3 separate regions of the Homo sapiens genome follow, and regions 1 and 3 are each linked to region 2. The links come from fine-mapping of genetic effects on gene expression. A gene starts in region 2. Each other region holds a variant in brackets. All regions are shown on one strand. Distances are from middle to middle.

Evidence for each region.
Region 1: its variant is fine-mapped to the expression of GALNT7-DT in whole blood (INTERVAL, PIP 0.96).
Region 3: its variant is fine-mapped to the expression of GALNT7-DT in whole blood (TOPMed, PIP above 0.99).

Annotation. Positions count from the first base shown.
Region 1 is chr4:173,362,258-173,370,343 of GRCh38, forward strand. SAP30-DT (SAP30 divergent transcript) reads right to left here. Exons shown (of 4, transcript NR_183973.1): 1 at 8,035-8,086; 2 at 7,177-7,353. Among named protein-coding and RNA genes, the nearest start is that of SAP30-DT, 4.4 kb to the right of the region's middle. RefSeq lists enhancers at 5,383-5,452, 7,918-8,086. The variant C/A (reference allele first, on the strand shown) is at 6,168.
Region 2 is chr4:173,164,255-173,173,986 of GRCh38, forward strand. GALNT7-DT (GALNT7 divergent transcript) reads right to left here and starts at 5,398. Exons shown (of 7, transcript NR_134242.1): 1 at 4,610-5,398; 2 at 3,708-3,859; 3 at 2,391-2,536; 4 at 1,870-2,045; 5 at 724-878; 6 at 39-99. It overlaps GALNT7 (polypeptide N-acetylgalactosaminyltransferase 7), which reads left to right and starts at 4,557. Exons shown (of 12, transcript NM_017423.3): 1 at 4,557-4,707. The coding sequence starts at 4,582. RefSeq lists enhancers at 1,668-1,747, 3,826-3,925 and silencers at 4,236-4,285, 4,356-4,475, 4,706-5,935.
Region 3 is chr4:173,138,940-173,150,364 of GRCh38, forward strand. The region is part of intron 6 of GALNT7-DT (GALNT7 divergent transcript); the gene reads right to left. It also overlaps the pseudogene RN7SL253P. Among named protein-coding and RNA genes, the nearest start is that of GALNT7, 24 kb to the right of the region's middle. The variant T/C (reference allele first, on the strand shown) is at 5,342.

The sequences.
Region 1 (8,086 bases), 200 kb after region 2:
AGCACCCAATGGAAGGAAAAGAAGCGCCTCTCTATAGGAACATTACATCATCCAGTGCTTCAAATTGTTTATATTAAATCAGTTTTTCCAATTAAATGAACTGCAAACAATCAAAATTAATGGATGCAGGAAGAGTAAGCATGAGACAGCCACCAGGAGAAACAATAGACAAAAGAAACAGACTTAATAACAAAGTCTAAAAACTACTATGCTTACTATGTTCATGAAAGAAAAAGTCAAGCATATAAATTTTGTCCAGGAACTAGAAATCATAAAAAAGTGACATTCAAGGTTTTAAAAAGAACCAGATAGGAATTATAAAACTAAAAAATGTAATAACTAAAAGTACAAAGACTACGGGTGAATTTTAGAGCAGGTTAGGGACACCTAAAGAGATAATGAGTGACTGGAAGATAAGTTAAAAGAAACCCTCAATAAATTTTAAAGGATTTAAATCATACAGAGTTCTAAAGTGACAATTTATATGTGTTCGAAATCAATAAGAAAAGGATAATCACATTATTTGCATATGTTTGGAAATAAGAAACCTACTTCTAGGCTGGGTGCCATGGTTCACACCTGTAATGCCAACACTTTGGGAGGCTGGCAGATGGCTTGGGTCCAGGAGTTGGAGACCAGCCCGAGCAACATGGAGAAACCTTGTCTCTATAAAAAACACACAAAAAACAAATTAGCTGAGCATGGTAGTCTGCACTTGTAGTCCCAGCTATTTGGGAGGCTGAGGTGGGAGAATCACCTGAGCCTGGGGAGGTTGACGCTGTCATGAGTAGTGATAGAGCCACTGCACTCTTGCCTGGGCAACAGAGTGAGACTCTATTTCAAAAAAAAAAAAAAGAAAAAAGAAAAAAAAAGAAACATACTTCTAAATCTATGCATCAAAAAAATGATAGGAAAATTAGATGATGTTTTAAATTCAATGGTAATAATACATATCAAGACTTGTGTGATGCAGTTAAAACAATATTGATGGAGAAATCTGTAGCTTTTAATGTACATATTTGTAAAGAAGTTAGTAAAAGAACAGCAAAATAGAAAGTAGAAAGAAATAATAAAGAAAATAGAATAATTGAAATAGAAAAAAATACAATAAAAACTATGTACAAAATTCAGGTCCTCTGAAAAGCCTAATAAAATTGATAGAACACTGGTGAGACTGATTAACAAAAGAGAGAAGGCACTAATAATTGATGATGAAGATAGGGACACTGGGTCAGATCTTGCACACCTTAAAAACATGAGGTTGTTATGAACATATAAATGGTATAAAAATTTAGATGAAAAACAAAAAAATCTGTATCAGACATGATACATAATAGCGAAACATGAAAAGCCTTTCTTTTGAAACTGGAAATGAGACATTTTTGCCTGCTAACACCTCTTTTATAATGTTGTTCTAGAGTCCTGAACCTGTAGTAGCACAAGAAAAAAGGGAATAAAAAATGAAGGAAAACTCAACGATTTGAAAATGGTATGATTGAATGCATTGAAACCCAAACACAAATACATTTATATTTTTATTGGATAAGAAATTTTAGCAGGGTTGCTGGATATAAAAATTAGTTTGGAAAATTAGCTTATTTTATATATATTTAAGCAACAAAAAAGGAAAATGAAATATTAAAAAGATACTATTTACAATAGTGTCAGAAATATCAAATATATATAGAGATATAATAAAAGATCAGTGAAACTTCTGCATAGCAACAAATACAATTATATTAAGAAACATTACAGAAGACCTAAATGAATTGAAAATCATGATTGGAAGGCTCAATGTTGAAGAAGTCGCTCGTCTCTCAGGTTAATGTATGGATTTGATGCAATATCATCCAAAATCCCAAAAGGCCTTTTTTGTTGTTGTTGTTGTTGTCTTATTGTTCATTTGGTTGGTTTTTCTTTTTTCTGGAACTTAAGCTGATTCTAAAATGTATAAGGAAATACAAAGGGTCAAGAATAACCAAGTCTGTGTTTTGACGAAAAAAAAATAAGGTAGAAGATCTATACTTCTAGGTTATCAAAATTTTTCTGAACGACTTTTATAATTAAGACTGTGGAATTGGCAAAGTACAATGGAAAGACTAGGCTTCAGAAACAGACCTACATACATACAACTTGATTTATGACAAAGGTGACACTGTAAAAGAATGGAATATGGATAGATTTTCCAGTGAATGGTACTTGGTCAAATGGGTAGCATATACAAAATAAAATTGTACCTCAACCACTGTGCACAAAAATCAATCATAATCTTAAATGAGAAAGGCAATACAATGAAGCTGTTAGAAGATAATGTAGAAAAATATCTTCATGATTTGGGGATAAGGAACTTACTTAAGTCACAAAAATCATCAGTCAGAAAAGAAAAGATAGATATATTTTTTCCTCATTAAAAGACTTTAAACAAAAGTTGCCACTGCAGAGTCAAAAGGCAAATTATGAAGTAGGCAAAGATGTGTGCAATATGTAAAATTGTGAAAAGGCTGTTATTCAGAAAACATGAATAACTACTACAAATCAACAGAAAAAGACACAATCCCAATAGAAAAATAGGCAAAAGACCTAACTAGGAACTTCCAAACGAGAAATCCAAAAGACCAATTAATATATAATCTCATTAGTAACTAAGAATGTTCAAATTAAAATCACAATTAGATACCATACATACCTACTTGATCTTTTTTAGAAAGTACAATATCAAATGGTAGGCAAAGATACAGAACTCTCATATATTGCTTAAGGAAGTGTAAAAGTTTGGAAATATCTAGTAAAGTTGAATCTACGCCTACCTTAAAACTCAGCAATTCTGTTTACATATGTAAGCAAGGAGCTGGAAGTTCTCACTCCAACTTAACAACATATATATCTTACTGACCTGCAGTCACGTATGTATCAGGATACATGTACAAGAATAAGAATGTTCATGGCAACATTCTTTTAATAGCCCTAAACGGGAAACAATCCATATGTCTATCAACAATAGAATGGATATATTGTAGTTTATTCATACCATAATGAAGAGAAAGAATTAAACTACATAAAAGTAGACCTTTGAAAAACAGAGTAAATGAACCCAAAGAAAACAGAATATAAAGTATATGAGTCCACTTATATAAAGTTCAAAAACAGCAAAACTGAAAAAAAAAGTTGAAGAACTATGTGGCAAAACTGTAATGAAAAACGAGGTAACAAATACCATAAAAGTCAAGATAGCTACTCCTGCTAGCTGGGAGATGGGATTTATGATGAAGAAGTGGCAGGTGATGGCTTTCTGGCATGTTGTCAATCAGGGCCATCTACATAATTTGTGGTGTCCAGAACAAACATCTTTTTTCTCTCCCTCCCTCTCTTTCTCCTCACATGGTGTTTTCTTATTTGCTATTTAATGTGGCACTCCCTTGGGCACAGGTGGAAAACTGACCCAAAGGAGCTAGGGGCCTGACTCCTGGTTCAGAGGAAATGGGGAGGATCCTGCACCTCAGCCAGACACTTCCTGCACCGTACCTCCTGCTCAGCCTCTGCCAGAGCAGAGGGTGGGGTGGGGTGGAGTGGAGAGAGTGAGCAGCCAGAACTCATTCTGGGGAGGAAGGGAGGTGGCAGGAGGCCCATGTTGCCTGAATCAATGCATTGTCCCATTGATACTTCACTGATAAAACACAAATTCAAAGATAAAATTATTGAGAATTACATGATGGTGATTGCAGGGCATTAAATGTCAAGCAGGAAGGAGGAGGAGAGTGGAGCATGTTGGCTTCTGAGCTTGGGGTCCTGTGCCACTGCAAGTCCCTGAAGCTGGCCCTTTCAGCAATGTTCTCTTTCCTGACCTGGGTAGCAGTTATACGGATGTGCATTTTACCATAACTGCTTGTCTCCGTTCATTTGTGCCGCCATAACAAAATAGTTGAGACTCAGTAATTTATAAAAACCAGAAATTTATTTTCTCAAGGTTCTGGAGGCTGAGAAGTTCAAGATCAAGATTTGATCTTGGTGTCTGGTGGAGGCTGCTCTGTGCTTCCAAGATGGTGCCTCTTGCTGCATCCTCACATGGTGGAAGAGATGGAAGGGGTAAACTCGCCCCCTCTATCCCTTTCATAAGGCGCTAATCACATTCATGAGGGTGGCCTCACCACCTCCTAAAAGCCCCACCTCTTAGTACTGTTGCATTGGGGATTGAGTTTCACAATGAATTTGGGAGGGGACACACACAAACACTGAAACCACAGCACTGCTTAAACTGGACATTCATGCTTTATACAATTTTCTGTATGATGGCTGAGTTTAAAACTAGATAAAGGAAAGGTGGTGTAAAACGGAATGAACTTTTGCTGTAAAATATAGAATTATTCACATATAGAGATGTATATACTAGTAAATGCATACTTTTTTCTAGAAGGAAACAATAATCTGTTAACACTGGTTGCTTCAAGGGACAGGGATTTGAGGAGATGAGGTAAAACAGGCTTTTGTTTTTCATATGAACCTTTTTGTATTATTTGAATTTTCTACTGTGGTCATGTTGGGATTATTGGCCAATTTATATGTTTTTGTAAATTAAATAAAATTATTTAGTTGCTTATTTTAAAGTAAAGCCAGAAAAATGCAATCATGTTAAAAGCCTATAGGGAAGACAGGCACGGATACATACTTTTTTAAGAATCATATTTTGAACCATTTTAGAAAGCAAAGAGCATTTTTGTTGATATGAACAACCCCCCTATAATTAAGGTTTCATAGATCTATATTTTTTACCTAGTCTACTCTGAGGTAGATTTACTGTGAAGCTAAAGGATTCAAACTTCAGAGTCCCTCACTTGGATAGACCCTTATGAAGTCCTGTACCTAATTTTAATTTTGCATTCATAATTTTACATACTTCTTTAAAAAGACCTTTCAGATTATATAATCTTGAAGCCCCCCTAAAACCTGATTCCAACCTTGACTGTGAGTTACACTCAAATCAAAGAGTTCTTATACCTGCCCTAAATATGAAGATTTGTAGAAATAAGTAACAAAACATGGTTGTAAAAATGTATCTAAACAAATAGATTCACTCAAGATACACTTTAAATCTGGCAGTGAGAATTAACATGTCCCCTACTCCAGCAATCTTTTCAACTTGCCAGAAATGAATCATTTCCTCCTATGTGCTATGCCTGTACTTTCTCTCTATTGTTATTGAGGTTTGTATTATGTGCTTGTTAAGCTACCTGTCTGCCCTACTAGACAAGAAGCTCCCAAATAGCTAGGACCCTCTCAATTATTTTTGTGCCTCCAGGGCCTAGAAAAAGATTCTAGCATGCAACAAGTGACTGTTTAATAGGATCTTTTTACAACCATTGTATTGTGTGTAAAGGAGCCATAGCTACAGTTCTTTACTTGAGTAAGCTTCATATGAAACTGATAACTATACATATACATACATGCACAGCTTAAGGAGATTCACAAAGTACTTATCAGTAAGCATCTTTCTTTTTCCTACTGAATTTACATGATTTGGTCACATTTTGCAGAAGATATAAGCTTTTTTAAGCACAAGAACCAAACAATATGAATTTCATGAACTATTTTAAAAACACATAAATGTACAAAGAAAAATATGAAAATTCAACATCCCACTGTCATGTTTCAGATATTTTTAATAAATAAAAACTTTAAAATTCAGAAGAAACCATCTTTAAGCCATTCCCAGTGTGAAAATTGATCATACAATCTGGATCATTCTTGTCATACCCAACTAAATCAGAATCGAGGGACCAGGGGAGAAAGCAATCAGGGCACACAGCTCTAGCATTAAGAATTAAGTTTTTTACAACCCAGCTGCTGAAACGGCCTGCAGTAACTCTAAGACCAGTTTTACCGAGTAGTTGCTGAAACAATCTCCTATGACTAAGACTGGTTTTATCTACCACTCTCACTCACCAATCAGAGCTTGCCAGCTTCCCAAAACTTTACTATAGTGCCAATGAACCTTCTTTCAAAACAGTAGCAACATTTCTCTTTCTAATAAAACTCTCGACCTTCTCTTTGTTCTTCTGACATACTAAAGACCACTCAGTCTGTGTGTATGTCCTGAACTGCAATTCTTGCTTCCCCAAAAAACCATTAAATTTAGAAATTCATCTCTTTATATTTTATGTTTACTCTGACAC[C/A]ATATACAAATTCCTTGGCCTCCTTCGTTGGAGATGAGCATCACCCTGAAGTTGGGATGTATCATCCCATCCATATATTCTCATTTTTACCACTTAAGAAAATGTATCCATAAATATATAACATGTATCCATAAATATATAATTATTCTGTGTTGTAATTTTTTTTTTTTTTTGAGACAGGGTCTCGCTCTGTTGCTCAGGCTGGAGTGCAGTGGTGCAATCTCAGGTCACTGCAACCTCTGCCTCCTGGGTTCAAGCAATTCTCCTCCCTCAGCCTCCCAAGTAGCTGGAACCCCAGGCTTGTGTCACCATGCCTGCCTAATTTTTGTATTTTTAATAGAGACGGAGTTTCACCATGTTGGCCAGGCTGGTCTCGAACTCCTGACTTCAGATGATCCACCCTCCTCGGCCTCCCAAAGTGCTGGGATTACAGGCGTGAGCCACCACGCCCTACTGTGTTGTAATACTTTAAGCCAGTGTTATCTAATGCAACAGGTACAATTTATTGTAATATTTTGTTTAACCCATTACATCCAAAACATTTAAACATATATAAAAATTTTTAATGTGCACTTCAATATTCTTTTTGAAAATTTCTTGTAGTAAGTCCAGAAATAAAAAAAAAGTCCAGCTGATATATACTTACAGCACATCTCAATTCATATGCTAAAGTTAGAGTTCATAAAATTTAAGTTGGAAAAACAGATTCATATATCTGAGTTGTTGCAAACACACTTAAAAGTATTCCAACAATTGAATCGAGCATCAGGTTTTTGGTTTTTGTTTAATTCAAATTCAATTAACGATTCAGTTTTTCCGTCTCAACCACATTTCAAGTGCTGAGTAGCCACATATGGCTAGAGGACAGCCTACTGGACAGCACAGCTTAAGGAGGTACACAATGTACTTATCAGTCATCATCTTTCTTTTTCCTACTGAATTTACGTAATATTTAAATTGTTTTTCTTTGTCATATCCTAGAACTCAAACGCACAGATACAATGGATACCTTTGATTTTCTGCGTCGATGGCATTTTGCATTTAAAAAGATCATCTGGGTGGGGTGGCGCGCGTCTGTAATCCCAGCTACTCGGGAGGCTGAGGCAGGAGAATCGCTTGAACTCGAGAGGCGGAGGTTGCAGGATCGCGCCACTGCACTGCACTCCATCCTGGGCGACAGAGCAAACTGTCTCAAAAGAAAAAAAAATCATTTATCACTAAATTTACTCACCAAAAGAACTTGCAAAAAAAAAACCCAAAACCCTACTGCCTAAAATATATTTTAAAACGTATTTGTGTTTAAGCAGCATATATCTTTTGATAAATAATGACGCATGGTAGCTAACTAGTAAAGATGCAGCTTTCATATTAGCCACGCCCATCCCTCTCTCCGCCCTCCACAAGCACGTCCCCGCAAGCGCGCAGGAACATACACGCGTACGCGCGCACACACACGTACACACGCGCGCGCCCGCGAACACATACATACAAGCAGGCGCGCCCAAACGCCGGCAGCACACAGGCGCGCACGCGCTTTTCAGGACTCAGGAAATGCGCTTTCTGCTCCCCGCGCCCGGTAGAGCTAATGCAGGGAAGTTTCTGGGAACATTCGACCAGCGTTTGTATTGGTGAGGTTCCAAGTTTCCTTTAAAATGATATGACTCCGCCCTTCTCCAAAACCGTTTGAGGAGAAATGGAAAAGGTTGGGCGTGGAGGTGAAAAGGAGCCCTGTTGTCAACTGGTCCGTACTCCACCTCAGGAGGCGGCCAACTTGGTGCGCCCAAGAATAAAAACATTTCCCTTGTAAGAACATGCAAGTGTTTAGAAACGCCCCCCCACCCCCCCGCAAGGCGTTTGTGAGGGGGACCTGTCACAGTTGAGAAGTCAGGATGGGCGTTTTCCTCCCAGGAGGTGCCCTA
Region 2 (9,732 bases):
TTCCATCAAGAAATACTCACTGAGCCCTTTCCACATACCAGACACGGATAACAATAACGAACTAGATAGACAAGGCTCCACCTTCATACACATTTTTATCTGGGTATAGGAAAAAGAAATTAAGCAATTACAATATAGTGGTAATCATTAGGGAAGAAAAGTAGAGGGTGCAGTGGAAGTACCTAGCAGGATACCTACCCTAGTACATTGGTGGGAAGAGATATAGGGGTGTGGAGTGGGACATGTGAGAGAGTCTAGAAAAAGCTTTTTTGTAACTGACATCTAAGCGTAATGTTAAGATGTCAGAAGGTATTTCAGGCAAAAAGAACTCCCCGTACAAAGGCCTGAAGGTAAGTGAGTTACATTTAGAAACTTAGAAGTTCAGCTTGGCTGCAGCATAGCATTGGGGTAGTGTAGCCCCAAAATGGATACAATTCCCTCTGCTGGGCTTCCCTGTAACAGAGTTGACATGGTGGAGAAATTAAAAAATAACAAAGCTTTAGGCTCTGACCTCTTGCACATTATGCTGCCTGAAAACATTTATGTTCCAGATGCAGAAGGCTAATCAGTCTGGCAAGAATTCTGAGGTTGGAAAAACCTGCTTTGAATCCCAGCTTGAGACCAGTAATACCCACAACAGGTTGTGTAGAGGTTAGGTGAAATAATAAATGTGAAGCATCTTACACACACTAGGTGCTCAAATAATTCTCTCCCTTCAGTTACCTTGCTTCTGAGCCCCCAGCTGGACTCTGAGCTGAGGACACCATGTCACCATCCACCACACATGACCCCATGACTTGGCAGAGGACGATGCTTTTCTTGGCCATCTCTATGTCCATCTCATTCAGTTCTAGTCTCTACCCTCTTCTTTAGAGGAACTGCAGCATTCATAAAACAAGAATTATAGCCACACGCACCTGAGACTTGTTCCATTACACTAATTGTACTTTATATTTGTATATGTACTTGATCTCAATTATTCCTTTTGAGAACATCATAAGGTTGAGTATTGTAATCACTATTTGGCAGATAAAAGCCCTAGGTTCAGAGAGGTACGTGATTTATCTTGACTGAAGCTTTGAATGTAGCTCCTCATTTTCTAAACGAGTTCTGTCAACCCTACAAAGGCTGCCTCCCAGCAAATACTGCAATGGGCATATGTTTTAAGGTATATTTGCACTTTTTTTAAACTTTTAAGTTCAGGGGTACATGTGCAGGTTTGGTACATAGGTAAACTTGTGTTATGGGGGTTTGTACAGATTATTTCATCACCCAGGTATTAAGCCTAGTACCCACATTAGTTATTTTTCCTGATCCTCTCCCTCCTCCCACCCTCCACCCTCCAATAGGCCCCAGTGTGTGTTGTTCCCCTCTATGTGTCCATGTGTTCTCATCATTTAGCTCCCACTTATAAGTGAGAACATGCAATATTTCGTTTTCTGTTCCTGTGTTAGTTTACTTGCAGTTTCTTTTAAAAGTTATTAAGACTCAGAGAAACATAAACTTTTACAACTATATACCTATTCATCAATATACAACTGTATAACTATATACTCTTTCACACATATTTTAAGTTCTCTGTGTAAAACTAAAGTTGGGGGGTGGTAGTGGTGGCAGGATGTTCTCAGAATACTAGGGCCTTCAAAGGACCATCCTCAATACTTTGATGATAGGTATCACTTTCCATTTGCATACTTGCCCAGCTATGCTCATAACAGTAAAAATAAAGCTTCCTACCTTCTTAAGAATAAAAAACTGTCTCCCCTGTGAAAATAACACAAGTGAAAGACTTAATTATTCAGGTGGACTTCAGCTGCTGATTTCAAATGGAATTATTCTCTTATGATCACAGGATGCCTTGTAAGTTACCTGTTTCAAGCCCAGTCTCTGCCTAGGGAACTGTCTCCTATGAAAAGGAGTCCGGGTGGACCATGGTGGCTCATGCCTGTAATACCAGCATCTTGGGAGGCCAAAAAGGGAGGATCGCTGGAGGCCAGGAGTTTGAGACCAGCCTTGACAACAGGACCAGATAATAGACCCCGTCTCTACAAAAAATAAAAAAAAAATTAGCTGGGCATGATGACTCACACATGTGGTCCTAGCTACTCGGGAGGTTGAGGTGGGAAGATCACTTGAGCCCAGGAGTTCCAGGCTGCAGTGAGCTATGGATGTGCCACTGCACTCCAGCCTGGGTGACAGAGCAAGACCTCAACTCAAAAAAAAAATAAATAAAAAAGAAAAGGAGTCCACCTCACTTCTGAACAGTTCAAGTTGAGTCCATAAATGAGCCTATTTCTGTCTTCCAAAGATATCCATATAAGACTTTTCCCAACCACCCCCCGCAACCTTGCTTCCTTTCAGTGTTTCTCCAAAGGTGGTGCCCAGATTACCTGGATCAAAATCACCAGGGTACTGATTAACAGGAGATTCCTGGGTCCCAACGCTGACCTGAATCATCACCAAGAAATGGTGCATTCGCTTTTCATATCACATTACCCAGCAGATTCATACTTCGTGAATTACACACTCTAGATCTCTGTCACACAAAAAAAATGGTCTTAGGCAAAATCTCTCATCTTCTACTTAAAACAACTGGTTTTAACCTAAGGGGCTGATATAAATGCTAAGTCAAGCAGTGATTTGTGTTTAACACTTGACAGTCCCTCTTCCAGGTACTCTATATAGTGGACTTTTATACAATATGATGTACAGTCCTTCAGCCAACCAATAATACACCTAACTACAATCCATTCTACATTTCCGGAACCATGCTGTTCATGAGGATATCACTTCAGATATTTTGTGGAAATTTTGAAATTATGGCATCTACAGAACTCCCTGATATACTAGCTATTGTAAGCCAAGCCAAAAAGCACATGAAGGTAGTTTGGTATAATTCTTTATCTATCTTGATAATTGAAATTGTTTCACTGTAAAACTTTACATAACTGAGCTTTGTTTTAAAGCAAAAAACTTGCAGATGTGAGACAGTACGAGAAAAAAGAATCAGCTGTTACCATCTTAAAACTTAGGATAGCCTAGGTGTGGTGGCTCACAGCTGTAATCCTAGCACTTTGGGAGTACGAGGCAGATTGCCTGAGCTCAGGAGTTCGAGACCAGCCTGGGCAACACCGTGAAACCTCGTCTCTACTAAAATACAAAAAAAAAAAAAATTAGCTGGGCGTGGCGGTGTGCACTTGTAGTCCCAGCTACGGGGGAGGCTGAGGCAGGAGAATTGCTTGAACCCGAGAGGTGGAGGTTGAGGTGAGCCAAGATCGCACCACTGCACTCTACTCCAGCCTGGGTGACAGAGTGAGAGACTCCGTCTCAAAAAAAAAAAAAAAAAAAAAAAAAAAAAAAAAAAAAAAAGAAAAGAAAAAAAACCCCAAAAAACTTAGGATAAAATCTTAAAACGTTTTGTTCGACTTAAATTTAAATTAGCAGTTTAGGATATAGTACACTGATAATGTAATTACATACATTCTGCTATAAAGGCATAGACATCTTTATTGGGAGATATGGGCAGAAAAATTATTTCCTCAGGGTGGGGCATTTGGCTAAACACTTGCCAATATCCTTTACTGTGTAATTTAGGTAACACAGGCAGAAAAGGCGTTTGAAAAGCAGAAATCAAGTGGCAAATATCAGATCTGAGGGACGCAATGAGGGTGGAGTTGAAATCCGTGGTCCTTGGATTTGAAACTTACCAGCCCGTGAACAAGGTTGGTATTGCTTTTGGCATAAGACGACAGCCTTTCTTTTCATTAGCTCAGGAGGAATACTGGCTTTCCAAGTGAGCTCCTCCAATCCAGTGATATTTGCACATCTCACCTGGGCCTTTCGGTTACAAATTCACCACCTTAAGGAGCCGTGTGAAAAAGCAAGAACAATCAATAAGAAGGAAAAAAAAAAACCCTTCAGCTATAAATCAGCCACGTGGAGCTGCTGCAGCAGCAGCGGTAGTCCCACTTCCTGGTTGGCTTCCTGAAAGCCTCTCGACAAGGGGCTCAGGGAAGTGGGTCTAAGGGAGAGGTGCAGACGAGAGCGACTCCAGGTCCAACGGAGGGGGCGGCGGGCCACGGGATCCCGGAGGGCACAGGCGTTAAGGACGGAGTTATTGTCCATAATTACAATAAAAGTTTGGGGATCTGAAAGCTTTAAGGAGCTGAGCTGCAGGGCAAAGGCTAAGAACCGGACTCGGGAAAAGTGCAAGTTAGTTACAAGGTAGCAGGGACTGTGAAGGGGGCTCGCGTGGAGAGCAGGGGACTGCGGATCTGGAAGGGGGCAGGTAGAGAGGAAGGCAGCCTGGCAGAGCGAGGCACACGGGTCAGTCGGAGCTCTGCGGTGGCCGCCAGAGGGGAGGGGGCCACGGGGAGGAGCGGAGGGAAGAGCCCGGGGAAAGGTGTAGCCGAGGGGAGTTCCGGATCTGGAGCTGGAAAGGGCAGGCAGCGGAGAGGGCGGCAGCCGTAGCGGTAGGGGTGGGGGAAAGAGGGGGAGGAGAGCCGGAGGAGGGGGAAGGAGGGAGGGGAGAGCGGTGGCGGCGGCTGCGCCGGGCTGTGAGTCTCTCGCCGCCGGAGGAAGATGAGGCTGAAGATTGGGTTCATCTTACGCAGTTTGCTGGTGGTGGGAAGCTTCCTGGGGCTAGTGGTCCTCTGGTCTTCCCTGACCCCGCGGCCGGACGACCCAAGCCCGCTGAGCAGGATGAGGGTGAGTGACCCGCCCGGCCCCCTCCGGCGGCAGCGACCGGCAACTTGTTTTGTTTGCCCGCGTGTGGAGGGAGCAGGGGCGGCGGGGTCGCGGCACGGCGTGGGCACCGCAGCTCCGCAGGTGGTGCTGGCGCAGCGCGGGCCGAGGGGGTGCCGAGCCCCGCGCACTCCGACCTCCCTGGCCGCCGCCGGCCCGCCCCCTCGCCGCCCCTTCCTCCGCTCTTCCCCGCCCCGGGCTCCGTCGCCGACACCCGCGCTGCCGCGGCAGCGGCTCGGGCGGCCGCTCTCCGCGCCGGGACTGCGGGCGGAGCGGGCGGAGAGCCGGGTCCGGGGGGCTGCGGCCGCCCGGCGTCCCGCTCTGGGGGGCCGGGACCGCAGCGCTCACGGCCCGGGGACGCGGGGTTGGTCCAGGCTGCGGCCTGTGGCGCGTGCAGGCCTGAAGGAGGCGAGATGCCGATGCCGCCACCGCTGGTCCGGTGGACCAGGCCCCTTGGTCCAGCCTCCCCTCCCGCAGCCGCCCGTCTGGGGGTGTTCGCAGCCCCGGGCTCCCCCGGCCCGCCCGCCGGGGAGTGGGAGGGCGATGGCGCCCCGCCTCCGGCTCTTACGGAGAGCGCGCCTCCCCCTCAACTCCGGCGGCGGGGAGCCGGGGTGCGATGCGCGGCCGAGGCCTCGCCCGGACCGCCGGTCCCCCTCGCGTCCCTGGGCGAGGGAGGGGCGGTTGGCCGGAGATGGCGGAGGGGCGTCCCCGCCCCGCCTGCCCGCCGCCCCCAGCCCTCAGCGCCTGGGGAAGCCCCTGCTGTGGCAGTGCTCGGGCGCTATCCGGGGGAAGAGGAGCAGTTCCTCTTCCTTGGCTGCGGCAGGGCTGCTTGGGCCGGAAAACTAACTTGTGTCGGCGCCCGGCCGCCCCGCGCCGGCTGCCGGCTAGCTCAGGCCGACGCCGAGGGGAGCGGCGGCGCGGAGCTCGCGGCGGCTCCGCTGGGACGCATTTGTCTGCCGCCCAGGGCGCGAGTGTTAGCGCTGACATTCCTTGGATTTGGAGGGTTTAGTCAGGCGCCTCGGAACATTAGTTACCCGGAGCCGCGCCGCGCGGGGAAGGGACCGCGGGCACTGCGGCTTCCCTGACCCGGCAGCGGGCGGCGCGCACCGGCCTCGCCCCCGACCCTGACCTGCTTCCCCCCGGATGAACCGTTGCACCACCTGCTTCCTCCTCCCCGCTGGGACAGCCAACTGGGCCGGCTGCCAGTGGGGGTAGGAGAGGGTATGAGGGGCTCACGACCGCCGAGGCGGCGGGGCTGCAGGAGGAGTCGAGTCGCTCTCTCTGTTGTAAAGTGCTTTTTGCAAGTGTGATGAGCATCGCTTCTATGTCATGTTTATTTAACTTTCCTTCTGGAAAGTTAGCATCAAGAAGTTGGGCAAAAAGGCTTGTGGCGTCCTTTCAAGAGTAAGAATCCTAGGAGGAGATCCCATTATCAGCTCTTCGCCTATATCATGAGATTAGATGTAATCTGGAAGTTTTAGTATTTGAAGTCTCTACAGCAGTGGAATCCCTTTGTAATATCTGGGATAGATTCCCATCTAAGTCATCTAAATTGATGGTAATAAAAAGTATCAGTTTTCCTTTTCAGTACATTTGCGGTTTTAAGCTTCTCAGCTCATGGAGTGATGGTGATCTTTTTATAATTTTGCTCTCAATATGACTTATTGACAAAGGATAACTGAATATTGCAATTGAGGATATTTGTTTTAAGTCATCAAATGGCTTTTTACATGTAGCTAGAAATGTTTAACCCCCTATTTTCTGGTAGAGAAACTGACGAAAAACTGACAAAACTAGCTAGGTTCAGAATGTCCCGCCCTTCTGATGATCTTTTAAAGAGGTGGCGGAACATCAGCATCACTTGCCAACTCGTGGAATATTTTATTAGTGCAAACAAAGGATGGGCCATAATGCCCATTTCAGTACTATATGGTGATGATAAAGAAGGTGATGATATCTTGATTTTTTGTTTGTTTCAGTGTACTTGATAAAGTTTCTCAGTGGATCCAGTGTAATTTCTGTCATTTGTCAAAAACAAAAGGTAGATTTTAAAGACTTAACATAATTAACATTAAGAGGAATGCTTAGGTATCAGAAGAGCAAGAAAGACCCTTTTATTGGCTTCCCAGGTAAATAGTAATACAAGCAATTTAAAGTGTAGCTTATAAATAATAAGAGCATAAATAAGGGATTATTGCCTTCCTTTAATAAAGACTAACCTAGGAGCTTTTAAGGTACAGTGCTAGAAGGACAAATCCTGTAGGGAGGATTCTGACTCCTGAGTTTCTCCTCCCCCTTGTGGTTCTTTTACTTCGATGACTATTGCATATATTCCACCCATGGTGAGATCTCTGCTTCTCTTTAATGCTGATCTACACATGGACTTTTTTGGATCCCTTTAAATAGCCTGAACGATCCAGTTTACCAGGTATGGGTTCTGCCTCTACTCCAGCAAGCTTGTACCTGTGGCTCCATTCACCCTGTGCCACTTTTTGTCTTGAACTATGAATATGTCATACACTAAATTCTGTTACAGCCTTGACAACTTGGGATGGTCCTTTCTCATCTGCACTATTTCCTTGTTTTAGGTCTGTCCACCTGTGGAGTCAAGACAAAAGAAACATGTTTCTTATTTCCTTCCCATCTCTGGGCCTCTTGCCCTTTCTCTGAAGTGAATGATGTGAAAAATGACCTTACATTTCCGATCATATTCTGTTGTGTGATTTTAAATATTGATTTATTTGAACATTTTTGAGTGCCAATTATATACCAGGCATGGTACTAGTTGTTAAGGAAATACTCCTTGTCCTTAATCTCATGGATCTTGTAAAAACCACACAGCAATCAAACCTCGATAAATATATAAATAAAAATTGTGCTACTGCTTTCATAGTGAAAACCATAGGGGGCAAGAAAATGGAGGAATTTGGTCATAAAAGCCTTACTTGAAGAAATGACTATTAGCAGTAGCAAATCCACACAGGTCTGAAGCAACTCGATTCTTACCTCCTGTGGGAAAGAATTTATTGGAGGGGCATAAGGCAGAGTGAGAGACCGAGGCAAATTTTTGAGCAGGAGTGAGAGTATTAAAAAGCTTTAGAGCAGGAACGGAAGGAAGTACACTTTGAAGAAGGCCATGTGGGCTACTTGAGAAATCCAAGTACCTCGTCTGACCCTGGACTTGGGGTTTTATACATTGGCATGATTCCAGGGTTTGCGTTTCTTCTCCCGTGATTCTTCCCTTGGGGTGGGCTGTCTGCATGCGCAGTGGCCTGCCAGCAGCGGGGAGGGGCTGCCTGCAGTGTGTTTACTGAAGTTTTACTCATGCTCACTTGAGGCATTTTTCCCTTACAATTTGAGCCTTCCTAGAGGAAGGGCATATACTAGTTAAAAGCTGCCATTTTGCCTATTAGTGCACATGCTGGAGCCCACTTGCCCAACTCCTGAGATCTTAGTGGGAACCTGCTGATAACCAGCTTTAGGTGTTTTCTATCTAATGGGAGACTGCCTTTCCATGGTGTTGGCGCGACCAATTATTATTTCAGAGAGACAGTTTAACAACGGCCTGACCATCACCTGATGGCCGCCTGACATTCCTGGTGGTGGGGGGCCTTTCCTGCCCTGCTCATGTCTGCCTAGCTGCCTACTCTGACTTTTGAGGCGAAATCTGAACATTTCAAGAAAAGTAGTTAATCTGGAAGTGGGTGGCAGCATTCTTGAGAAGGAGCATTTGGGCAAAGGTCCTGAGGCAGGAGGTAGCATGAGTGAAATAGTGAGAAACTAGGAGATAAATATTGTTGGAACGTGGAGAATGACAAGTAGAATGATGCCACACAGGAAAGCATGGGTCTCGTAGTCCATGCTAAGGAGGAGATCTTAAGTGCGGTGAGAAGCCGTTGAAAGATTTTAAGTAGGGAAGAGTGGATTTGTGTTTTGAAAAGATCACTCTGGCTGCCTACAGAAAGTATGTATTTGTCTATAGAACAGGTAGCAGGAGTCCTGGTGGGGGTCATCATTATTCAGGTGGGACATAATCCTTGCTTAGATTGGCAGGGCGGTGGTAGAGATAGAAAAAAATAAATTGATTCAAGAGCTCCTAAAGATGCAAAGGCATCAGGATTTGGCTATTGGATATGGTAGTGAAGGTGTCAGGAGGCCTAGGATGATAGATTATTTGTTTCATTATGGAAAGTTCTCAAAGCAAAATGTATACCTTCTTGTATTGTATTTTATGATTATGGGAAGCTTTTTTTTTTTTAGTCTTTGCCCTCTGGATATTTTAAGGTCAGCATTTATTAAGATTATCTGCTTGGACTTGCAAAGCACAGAAAGTTCCTTTAATTAAATAAATTATGTCCCAGACTAACACCATTTATCCCAGGTTTTAGCCCTGAGTGACTGTCTACAGTTGACCCATAAGCCTCTGAAAATAAAGGTTTTTAAAGGAAATGTTGACAGATCCATTAAAACAGCAGTCCCCCACCTTTTTAGCACCAGGGACTGGTTTTGTCAAAGACAATTATTCCACAGACTGGGGGAGTTGGGTTGGGTGGGGGATGGTTTGGGGATGAAACTGTTCCGCCTCAGATCATTAGGTATTAGATTCTCATAAGGAGTGTGCAACCCGGATCCCTTGCATGCAGTTCACAATAGGGTTTATGCTCCATGACCCAGGGTTGGGGACCCCTGCATTAAAACATTCAGTACTGGTGAGAAGCTGTGTGTAAACTAATGACTCTCTGGATATGCAAATGCAACTTTAGTCAAGTCATTAATGCCACTTAGGTTCAGGGTGTATATAATAGGACTAATTCAGGAACTAGTAGGCCAAGAGGTTTTATGTGATAGGCAAGCTAACAGGTTTGAAAGGAATATAGCTTAAATGAGGATTAGTGGCTGAACTGATTACCCTGGCAGTCAAGTTCCACCTTACCAAAGCCATTTTATCTCAGTGATGATCAGTTGTAACCTGAAAAATTCTGCCCTTGA
Region 3 (11,425 bases), 24 kb before region 2:
GATTTGTAAACCACCATATGATGACCAGAGGAGCACAAATTGTATTCTTTCCTCCCAAATTACTATCAGAATTAGAATGCTAATTGGATTCTTCCCTCCCAAAGTAATACTACTTTAGGGTCTTCTGAATCTTACTTTGACAATTATTCTAATATGACTATTGGTGCAATTTTAATAGTGCATTAAATTTAGGAAGTTCTTATATTATCTGTCAGTTGCCATCATAAATCTGGAGTGTATGTATTCTCTAATTAGATATTTCACTTTTTTAATGTCAAAGAAGTAAATCATTTTATCCTTTTGGAATAGAGTAATATTGATGTAAAGTACTGACTTAGGTCTCTGAGAGGTATAAATAAATCTGGAATGATGTGGGGGCATTTATGGTTTTTTAATAAATTAGGATTTAGGAATTTATCAACTGTGGGTGGTTTTGGTTGGCCTGAATGGTGACACTGGCAGAATATTTTTGTGAACTGTTCTGCTTTAGTGTTGGATATGGTACTACTGGAGTCCTTATAAAGTGAAACACTGTCTGGAACTCAGTTTGAAAGAAGTATCTGGCTAATAGTCTGTTTGGGCATGTCTTTATTTTATAAAAATTCTGTTGCAAATAAAATTGTATTTTTTTAATACTGTTCACCTCTAAAGAGTGTGGCTTTGATCTTCCTTTCCTGAATTCCTACAGGCTTTGTGGCTAGTGCCTGTTTTGTTTGTTGATGCTCTATTGCTCACACATTGGATAGAAGTGAATATTTTTCTCTTATTCTTTGTTTAATACAGAAGGCTGCACTGCGCACTCTCATCTGTTACTTGAATGCATCTCAAACAGTCTTTCAGAACTCCCACATGAGGATGACAATGAAAGTAGTCAGTAATTGTTGATGAAAGCTTTGTAACTTCTGCATCATGTAACAATATTGAATTGTTAAGAACAAAAGCTAGTCCCTTGACCTCCTTTGCATTCTGAGACGGTTTACAGGAAATTCAGGTATGGCCAAGGTTTTGTTATTCTTCCAACTTAGCAAATGCAATATAAGACAGAACTTGATAAAAAATTAACAAGATAATCTGACAAACTGAATATGTATATGACCAGTAAATATTCTCTCTTACTGATAGGTTTGGTGTTATGTCCCTGAGATATTCTAGAACTGAACTTGTTGAAGAAGATTTACTCATCTTTGCATTTATTATTGCAGTAAAGTCTCCATAAATTATCCATTGTTTATTATAAAATGTTTATTTTTTGGAAGGCCTGAGTTATAAACACTTATTTCTTGGGAGCATAAACTGAATCTAATGGTTTGTTCAGATTATTTATTACCTAGCCCATCCATTTTGATACAACTCACAAAAATACTACAGTGCAAAAAAAGAGAACAATAATTGAGAAAATTCAGGATATAAGGAAAACATTAATGAGAAAAATGCAGCTATGACAGCCATTAAAACTGAGAATCAAAAATTGATACTGCAGCCACATCTCTGATGCTTTGCATTACTAAGATTGCACCAAAACTTCAAAAATCACGAAGCTTATTAAATCACATTGCTCTTCCTTTAATTTTAACAAGAATTAAAAATTCTTATTAATAATATATTTAAGAGCAAACATGTTTTTGTTCTTGAATAAATAATGTAAAATAATTATTATATCTTTATTATAGTCTTTTAAATATTTTAATTATGAGTAATATGGTATCAAGGTAGTACCTGTGTATAATAAATACCTCTGGAGGCTACTGATAGCAGAGAGCACAACTCTAGGGAAAGCCTGACTATTAACTTTTGTTCTAAATAGTGAGGGTAGGGGCATGAATAGATTTATATTTTGGTGACTGTGAGGAAGATGAATCCAAGGGGTAAGACCAGTTAGACAGTGACAGTAATACCCCAGATTAGAAATAATAAGGACATGGGGCAAAGAACAAATACAAAAGGAAAGTGGGGGCAAGTTCAAGAAATATTTAAGGGGGAAATCAATGATTTAATAGATATAACAATTGTCTTCATTTTGCAAATTGTATCCAGGCCAACTTCCCAACGTGTAGACTCCATACACATTTCTAAAATATTTTGTCATGAGATACATCACACATGCAAAGGGTTTAGAGTATATATATGCACAACTTAAAGAATAACAATAACACGAACAACCTTGCTTTTCTACCTTGCTTCAACTTAAGACAGGGAATATTATGAGAAACTTAGAAGCCCCTGGCGGCCCCTCACCAGTCAGAGCTGCCTTTCTTCTTCTAGAGCTAACCACTATGCTGAAACTTGTATTAAGCATTCTTTTGCTTTCCTTAGGATTTTACCATTTGTATTATATATAAAAAAGGTATCTCTAAACAACATATCGCTTAATTTTGCCTGCTTTTATGTATCTATTAATATACAAAATTGATATACAAATACAACCATGTTTTGATATACCAATTAATGATATACCAGCACAACTATATTTTGTGTATTACTGTGATACATTTCTTTTGTTTTGCCTTAGGTTTGTGAGCCATCTGTGTTGACATATGTGATTGTAGTGGAATAATATTTGTTACTTAATACCTTCCAGTGTATGATTATACAACAGATTATATATCCATCCTCCTGTTGATGAGTGCTTCTAACTTTCTGCTATTAAGCATAACACCCTATCTACCAGTTAAGACTGGTTGTAACAAAATAAAGAAGAATGCTGCCACATGCTGTGGTGCATGCCTGTAGTCCCAGCTACTGGGAGGCTGAGGCAGGAAGATCTCTTAAGCCCAGGAGTTCTGCACTGTAGTGCGCTATGCCAATCAGGTGTTTGCACCAAGTTCAGCATCAGTATGGTGACCTCCAGGGAGTGGAGGACCACCAGGTTGCCTAAGGCGGAGTGAACCAGCCCAGGTCGGAAACAGAGCACGTCAAAACTTCCGTGCTGATCCGTACTGGGATCACGCCTGTGAACAGCCACTGCACTCCAGCCTGGGTGATATGGTTTGGCTGTGTCCCCACCCAAATCTCATTTTAAATTGTGGTTCCCACAATCCCCATGTGTCATGGAGGGACCCCATGGGAGGTAACTGAATCACGGTGGAGGTTACCTTCATGCTGTTCTCATGATAGTGAGTTCTCACCAGATCTGATGGTTTTATAAGAAGCTTTCTCCTTATTTGCTCAGCACTTCTCCTTGCTGCTGCAATGTGAAGAAGGCTGTGTTTGCTTCCCCTTCTGCCATGATTGTAAGTTTCCTGAGGCCTCCCTAACCATGCTGAACTCTGAGTCAATTAAACCTCTTTCCTTTAAAATTACCCAGTCCCACGTATGTCTTTACTAGCAGCGTGAGAACAGACTAATTCACTGGACAATATAGTGAGCCTTGTCTCTAAAAAAAATTCTTGGGAAGCTGAGGCAGGCAGATCACTTGAGGCCAGGGCTTTGAGATCAGCCTGGCCAACATGGCAAAATCCTGTCTCTACTGAAAATACAAAAATTAGCCAGGTGTGTTGGCACGGGTTTGTAATCCCAGCTACTCAGGAGGCTGAGATATGAGAATCACTTGAACCTGGGAGGTATAGGTTGTAGTGAGCTGAGATCATGCCACTGCACTCCAGCCTGGGTGACAGAGCAAGACTCTGTCTTAAAAAAAAAAAAAAAAAAAAAAAAGCCCTATTAACATTCTTCAACATGTCTCCTATTCAATTTGTGCAAGATACAGTACACCTAAATGTGAAATTATTGTGTCACGGGTTATGCATATATACTACTTTACTAGGCAATGCAAAATTTCTCTACAAAGGGAATGTACTAGCTTCCACCTCTGTCAGTAATGACAGTTCCCCTTGCTTAATATCCTCAATAACACTTAGTGTTATAAGAGTTTTCTAGGCTGGGCGCGGTGGCTCACGTCTGTAATCTCAGCACTTTGGGAGGCCAAGATGGGTGGACTGCCTGAGGTTGGGAGTTCAAGACCAGCCTGGCCAACATCGTGAAACCCCGTCTCTACTAAAAATACAAAAATTAGCTGGGCATGGTGGCGGGCGCCTGTAATCCCAATTACTCGGGAGGCTGAGGCAGGAGAATTGCTTGAACCTGGGAGGCAGAGGTTGCAGTAAGCCGAAGTCACGCCACTGCACTCCAGCCTGGGAGACAGAGCGAGAATCTGTCTCAAAAAAAAGACTTTTCCTTGTTTTTTGTTGACATAATTATTATATCATTGTCTTTTATTTGCATCTCGTTGATTACTGTGTGGCTCAGCACTTTTTCCAAGGTTTATGGCCATTTGTATTACTTCTCCGAAATGTCTTTTCATATCTTTTGTCCATTTTTTTTTTTACTGGGTTACATGTATTTGTGAGAATTCTTTCTATTCTAGATAGTAATCCATTGTCAGTTATATGCATTACAAATGTCTATTTCTAGTTTATCTTTTCACATTCATTAAGCTGTATTTTGTTTACTTCATAACGTAATCAAATTTTCTAATATTTTTCTTTTCATCCGTTTCACACAAGAAATAACCCAAATCAACTCCTTCAGTTTTACTTGATGATATTTCTATTTGTTCATTCACATATAAATATTAATGTATGTATAATATGGAAAATAGCCTTTACATGTTAAGAGGGAAAAAAATGACATACTATCTTACCCTTCACAATAACCATGCTATTATACTGACCACTCATTACATAATTTACCAGAAAATTATGCAGAAGTAGCATAAGTCTTTCCAACATTAATGCAAAGACATTATCACTGATTTTGATTTTGAGATGTGGTCTCAGGTAAAGTGATAATTGTATTAAAACTAATCTTTTTTTCAAATGCATTCCAAGATCTCAATTTTCTCCCTCAAATATTACCATAAAAACTGATGTCTTAGCCCACACAATCCTTTCTATCAAATTCCTCACAACCAGGCTTTGGATAGAGGGAATTTCTAAGCCCTGCTGTGGCCGTCTCCACCTGCTCTTCCACGCCATTCCTCCTTCTTCCATGCGCACACTTATATCTCTAAGAACCTATCTCACGAATCAATATTCTACCTCTGTTAGCTCAACTCTCCGAGTCATTCTAGTTGAGGAAAAAAGAGTGGGAAAGTAAAATTACCACTGTGGTCAAGATTAAGACAACTTAAACCAGAAGCTGAATTCCAACCTCTGTGAAGCATGAAGAACACCGAGAAACACAGGCTGCTAGGAATTACTGCCTTGACTCTACCTTGAGATTTCAGCCTTTCCAGTTCCCTTATATCTAGTAAAGCATCATTAATTTGGGGCTTCACTAATTCAAAAATTGTTAAGAGTTCACACAGGTACTCTGTTGAAGTTTAATTTTACACTAAGAATAA[T/C]GACAGATTGCAAACAATACTAGTAGCATTAGGAGGATATTCACTATAAAAAACCTTATCTTCACAATACATATAAAGAGGATAGTCACAAAAAATGTATCTTCATAATATATAAGGGGGATAGTCACAAAAAAAGATCTTCAAGTACTGCAAAAGAACTTGTTTGTTTACAATATTATGCTTAAAATATATGTTACAGTCCCTCTCAGGAAATTCTAAGCAGTCATTACATTATTACACATTGCTAGAAGGAAATGATAGTTTTCAGACTAATTTGAAGTAGCTTTTCTCCCAAAGATTTCCAAAATATTTTTTAATAAACACAAACACATTGCAATACTGTTTAGTGCATTTAATAAAATGGAAAATAGTACACTAGTACTGTGATTATACTTTAGTTTCAAGAGATAATTGTTAATATACATGTATATATTTTAGATAGGGTCTCACTCTGTTGCTCAGGCTGGATTGAGATGGTATGATTTTGACTCACTGCAGCCTGGCCTCCCAGGCTCAATTGATCCTCCCACCTCAGCTTCCCAAGTAGCTGGGACTACAGGCACACACGACCATGCCTGGCTAATTTTTGTATTTTTTGTAGAGACAGGGTTTTGTCATGTTGCCCAGGTTGGCCTCAAACTCCTGAGTTAAAGCAATCCAACCGCCTTGGCCTCCCAAACTGATTATTAATTTTAAAATGTCCGTTGGTAACCACTCTTAACATATTTTACCCGTAGAGAATTTTTCTGAAGAAAAATAATTAACATAGAAACAGAAATGTCAAAATTTGTCTAATTATCTAATTTACTCATTACTGACCCATACTGGTTTTATTGATTTTATTTATATGCTATGTGTTTTAATTATCTATTGTATAATAAATTACCCCAAAACTTAGCAGCTTAAAACAACAAACATGTATTATCTTACATGGTTTCTGAGAGTTAGTTCTCTGGGGGTGGCTAAGCTGGGTGGCGCTGGCTTGGCTGTCATTGCAGCTGTTGTCTCGACTGAAGGCTGAGGGAGGATCCACTTCCAGGCTTTCTCCATGGTTGTTGGCAGGCCTCAGTTACTTGCCTGAGTTCTCAGGCTGGAGTCCTCAGTTCCTTAGCAAATGAGACTCCAGAGGCTGTTTGAGTGTCCTCTCATATGACAGTTTGCTTCCCCACAGCAAATGATCCAAGAGAGAAAGAGTGTGACTGCCTACGATGGAAGCCATGGTCTTGATGACCTAACAACATACCATATGACATATCATCACTTCTGCTCAGTTCTACTGCTCGCATAGACCAACCCTGGCACAAAGTGGGAAGGGACTTCACAAGCATGTGGATACCAAGACACAGGGTGTGAATACCAGGAGGCGGAGATCACTGGGATCCATTTTGGGGCTTTGCTAACACACTATGATTTTTTAAAAGAAGAATACAAAAAAAAGGGAAGAAAACACAATATGGGGGAAGGAAATGTTCACTCAGAAGGTCCAGAAACACATTCAAATATATATAAAAATACTGTATACTAAAGAATGGTCTCTATATATTTGAGTATGTTTCTGGGCTTTATTTTTATTTTATTTATTTATTTATTTATTTTTGAGACGGAGTCTCACTCTGTCGCCCAGGCTGGAGTGCAATGGCACGATCTCGGCTCACTGCAACCTCCGCCTCTGGGTTCAAGCAATTCCCCTGCCTCAGCCTCCCGAGCAGCTGGGATTACAGGCGAACACAACCACACCTGGCTAATTTTTTGTATTTTAGTAGAGAGGGGTTTCACCGTGTTGCCCAGGCTGGTCTTGAACTCCTGAGCTCAGGCAATCCACCCACCTTGGACTCCCAAAATGCTAGGATTACAGGCGTGAGCCACTGTGCCCAGGCTTTATTTTTATTTTTTGAGATAGGGTCTCACTCTATCACACAGGCTGGAGTGCAATGGTGCAGTCACAGATCACTATAGCCTTGACCTCCCATGCTCAAGTAACCCTCCCACCTCAGCCTCCTGAGTAGCTGGCACTACAGACAATGTGCCACCTCACCTGGTGAATTTTTTGAGACAGTCTCCCTCTGTCACCTAGGCTGGAGTGCAATGGTGCGATCTCGGCTCACTGCAACCTCCACCTCCCTAATTCAAGCAATTCTCTTGCCTCAGCCTCCCAAGTACCTGGGACTACAGGCGTGCACCACCGCGCCCAGCTAATTTTTGTGTTTTTAGTAGAGATGGGATTTCACCATGTTGGCCAGGCTGGTCTCAAACTCCTGACCTTGTGATTCACCCCCTTGGCCTTACAGGCGTGAGCCACTGCACCGGGCCATCTGGTGAATTTTTTAAATCTTTTGTAGAGACAAGGTCTCTCTATGTTGCCCAGGCTGGCCTTGAGCAATCCATGTGCTCAGGTGATCAAGTGATCTCACTATGTTGCCCAACTCCTGGTCTCAAGTGATCTGCCTTGGTCTCAAAGTGCTGGGATTACAGGTATAAGCCACCATGCCCAACTCATTTCTGGGCTATTTCAGTCCATTGATCTGGCTATTACAGCATCACCATTATACTGGTTTTGATTATTATATTATTAAAACGTAGTATCTGGTAGAAGAAAAAGAGAAGAAAATTTTAATTTTTAACAATAACAAAAGTGTAATTTAAAAAAAAAACTTTGCAACAGCTTTTTTTGTTTGTTTGTTTGAGATGGAGTCTTGCTCTGTTGCCCAGGCTGGAGTGCAGTGGTGTGATCTCGGCTCACTGCAACCCCTACCTCCCAGGTTCAAGCGATTCTCCTGCCTCAGCCTCCCAAGTAGCTGGGATACAGGCATGCACCACCATGCCTGGCTAATTTTTGTATTTTTAGTAGAGATGGGGTTTTACCATGTTGCCAGGCTGGTCTCGAACTCCTGACCTCAAGTGATCCGCCTGCCTCGGCCTCCCAAAGTGCTGGGGTTACAGGCATGAGCCACTGCACCCGGCCTTTATAACAGTTTTATGCTCAAATAATCAATTCTGTTCTCCTCTTTTTGCCAAATTCATTAATTTCAAAAAAGTGGTTATCAACAATTTCTGAAAAAAATCATTTATTAAATTTGGAAATGGAATGCAGGATAATAATGCTCAATAATCAAGGGGAAAATGTTGTGAATGGAATAAATGAACTATTGGATCCCAGGGGCCAGTCGAGAAATATGTCAGGGGAAATGTGATACAGATATACAGAATTTGCTTGAAGAAAAAAATGGATGGTAGCGAGGTACTCAACCACGTTGGATCCCTGATATATTGGTTTGGTAACTTTTTGTTTATGTCTGGCACTTCTATCATAGGGTATTACTATTACCATATTCACCTCCACAGGGAGTTATATGGAATTAGTGGCAAACTATAAAGCGAAGATATCTGCTTTCTCATTCTCCTACCCACCATCTTCCTTTACCAACTGTATCATTTATCACGTATTAACTGCAATGATAAAAACTAAAGCATCTGGGTATAATGCAAAATAGGTTAATTTCTTGCTCAAGTCACAGTCCAATGCAAGTTTAGTGGGAGGAAGAGAGGTAAAACTATTCTGCACACGCCCTCAGCATGCCTTTCCCATCCCCCTAGACCTCAGCCTTTCCCTGAATTCTGTGCATAGTATGGGCAGATAAGACAGAACTTGGCTGGGCATGGTGACTCATGCCTGTAATCCCAGCACTTTGGGAGGCCAAGGCGGGTGGATCACCTGAGGTCAGGACCAGCCTGGCCAACATGGTGAGACCCTATCTGTACTAAAAATATAAAAACTAGCTGGGCGTGGTGATGGGCGCCTGTAATCCCAGCTACTTGGGAGGCTGAGGCAGGAGAATTGCTTGAACCCAGGAGATGGAGGTTGCAGTGAGCCGACACGGTGCCACTGCCCGGCAGCCTCGGTGACAGAGTGAGACTCCATCTCAAAAAAAAAAAAAAAAAAAATGACAGAACTTTGTGGACTATGCAAGATGAATTTTAGGGACCAGGCCTGCAAGTGTTGCACATCATTTCCATTAGTTAGAACTCAGTGACGGGACCCCACCAAGGGCATTTGGGAAATGTACTAAAGCTGTGTGTCCAGAAAAAAAAAAAGATGGGAGTTTGGTGAACATGCAGTATCTCTATATATTGCCCCATTAGTCTACCTGGAGGATGAGTGTGGGCTCTGATGAGAATGTTAAATCCCAATAACTAGTCCTTCAATGTATACTTTTCTTGTATTTTATGCTTTGAAACAGTTATCCTTCAAATTTATAGAAATAAGAGACTTCACTGAATCTTAAAGCTACCTAATAAGCTCTGAGCTTGGTGGTAGACAATAGGCTCAGAATGAAGGGAAAGGACTCGTTTGGAGCTTCTGTGAGTTATTGAGAGAGGTTGTGCTATTATTAAAATCACTTGTGCTCACATTCTGAGTGTTCAATAAATGCAAGTTTATGGCAACTCTAAATGGCAAAGTTCCTCTTTTGATGTTCTGATCCAAAAGTATGAGAATGTATATTTAAAATGATGTAGAGTTTTTTTTTAATTGTCTACTTGCCCTAGGCAGGTGTGAATTCTTATTCATAGCACCTTCTCTGTGCAATTGACATTTTTAAAACCTATCAAGTAAATCTTCACTTTAAAATTTACATATGTAATTCTATGAATTCAACAGTCACTTGAGACTATTTGAAGAAAAGAGAAATGTAATGAAAAATTCTGATTTCTAATGCTGAGATTTAAAAATTAAAGAAGCAAAATAAGTCTCAAGCCTCAAAACCAACAGATTAGAACTGCTATTTTCCCTAACCCTTGATTGATTTACTTTGGTTATTAAGCATTAAATGACTTATGAAATCAGACATCACTTATTTCTTTGCAATCATTTATCTAATTGACCTATTTCTAGGCAAGAGACATAATTCTAGTCACTTGGTAGGCTTTATATGGGCAATTGGTGGCTGAAATTTTATTTCTGGCTCAATTAAGGAATTTAAATACACTATTTCCTCTTGATAACGTATCTAATTTAGGATCTTCTCAATCATTAGGTTATGTCATAGGATTTTATTTAGATTGCATTAACTATTAACCTTCTGTTTTCCCAAACTTGGTTAAAAATAATTCTGATTTGTTGTACAATTCTACCTATATTTCACTTTGCCTTATCTCTGTGCTCCCAAATTGCTGCTTCCCAAATTTTCCTTCTTTTATTATACATGTACCATAAAAAGCTTCAGAGGTAGCTATGTTAATCCTTCCTTCCTCCCTTCCTTCCTTCCTTCCTTTCCTTCCTTCCATCTTTTTTTTTTTAAACAGAAAAATTCACCACAGTGAATCATGGCAGTAATCTTCCTTGATAAGTTCATAATGTGAGCCATTGTAGCATCAAATTAAAGATACCTAGAAAAGCAGTGTTTTTAGGCAATTCTAATCAAAGAGAGTATTTGAAAATACTAATAAAGTATGACCTTCAATTTTTTGTTAAAAGTATTAGTGAGAAGAATGGTTAAGAAAAAGAAACACCTTCTGTAACTATTCATTATGCCATCAGATTCTCCAAGCTCTAAGTGCTCTAAGGGCAGGATTCTGTATCCTCACAGTCTGATACAACTAGTCACTCAATACTTACTGAATACATTTATCAATAAAATCTTATGTGAATGGTAACAGTTATGACTCATTTGCATATTTTGAATAAAAGCGGAAACCTTTCCATGTTGATATATGAAAAATTGTGTATAGCATTTAAGAAGCAAGCTATACAAATGCTTTTAATACTATGAATGAAGTCTGTTTTTTGAAAAAAGCAATGGACATTCTTAGAAAGTTTTCTGGGATCTAGTCTATTGGTTGATTTTCTTTAACCTGTGCTGACAGAAAACTGCCTAATCACACTGAAAATGTCTCCTTCTGATTAAAAGTTTCATTTTTGGAATGCAATTTGCTACCTGTTCCTTTTCTGATTACCAAAAGACTAATTCTCCAAACAAGAAATGGTTCATGACTCTTATAACTTTATTAGACAAATAAATGTTCTATTTAGAACATTTCAGAAGAAAACAGAAATGTGTTGGATTTCAAGCATTTTATTTAAAATTG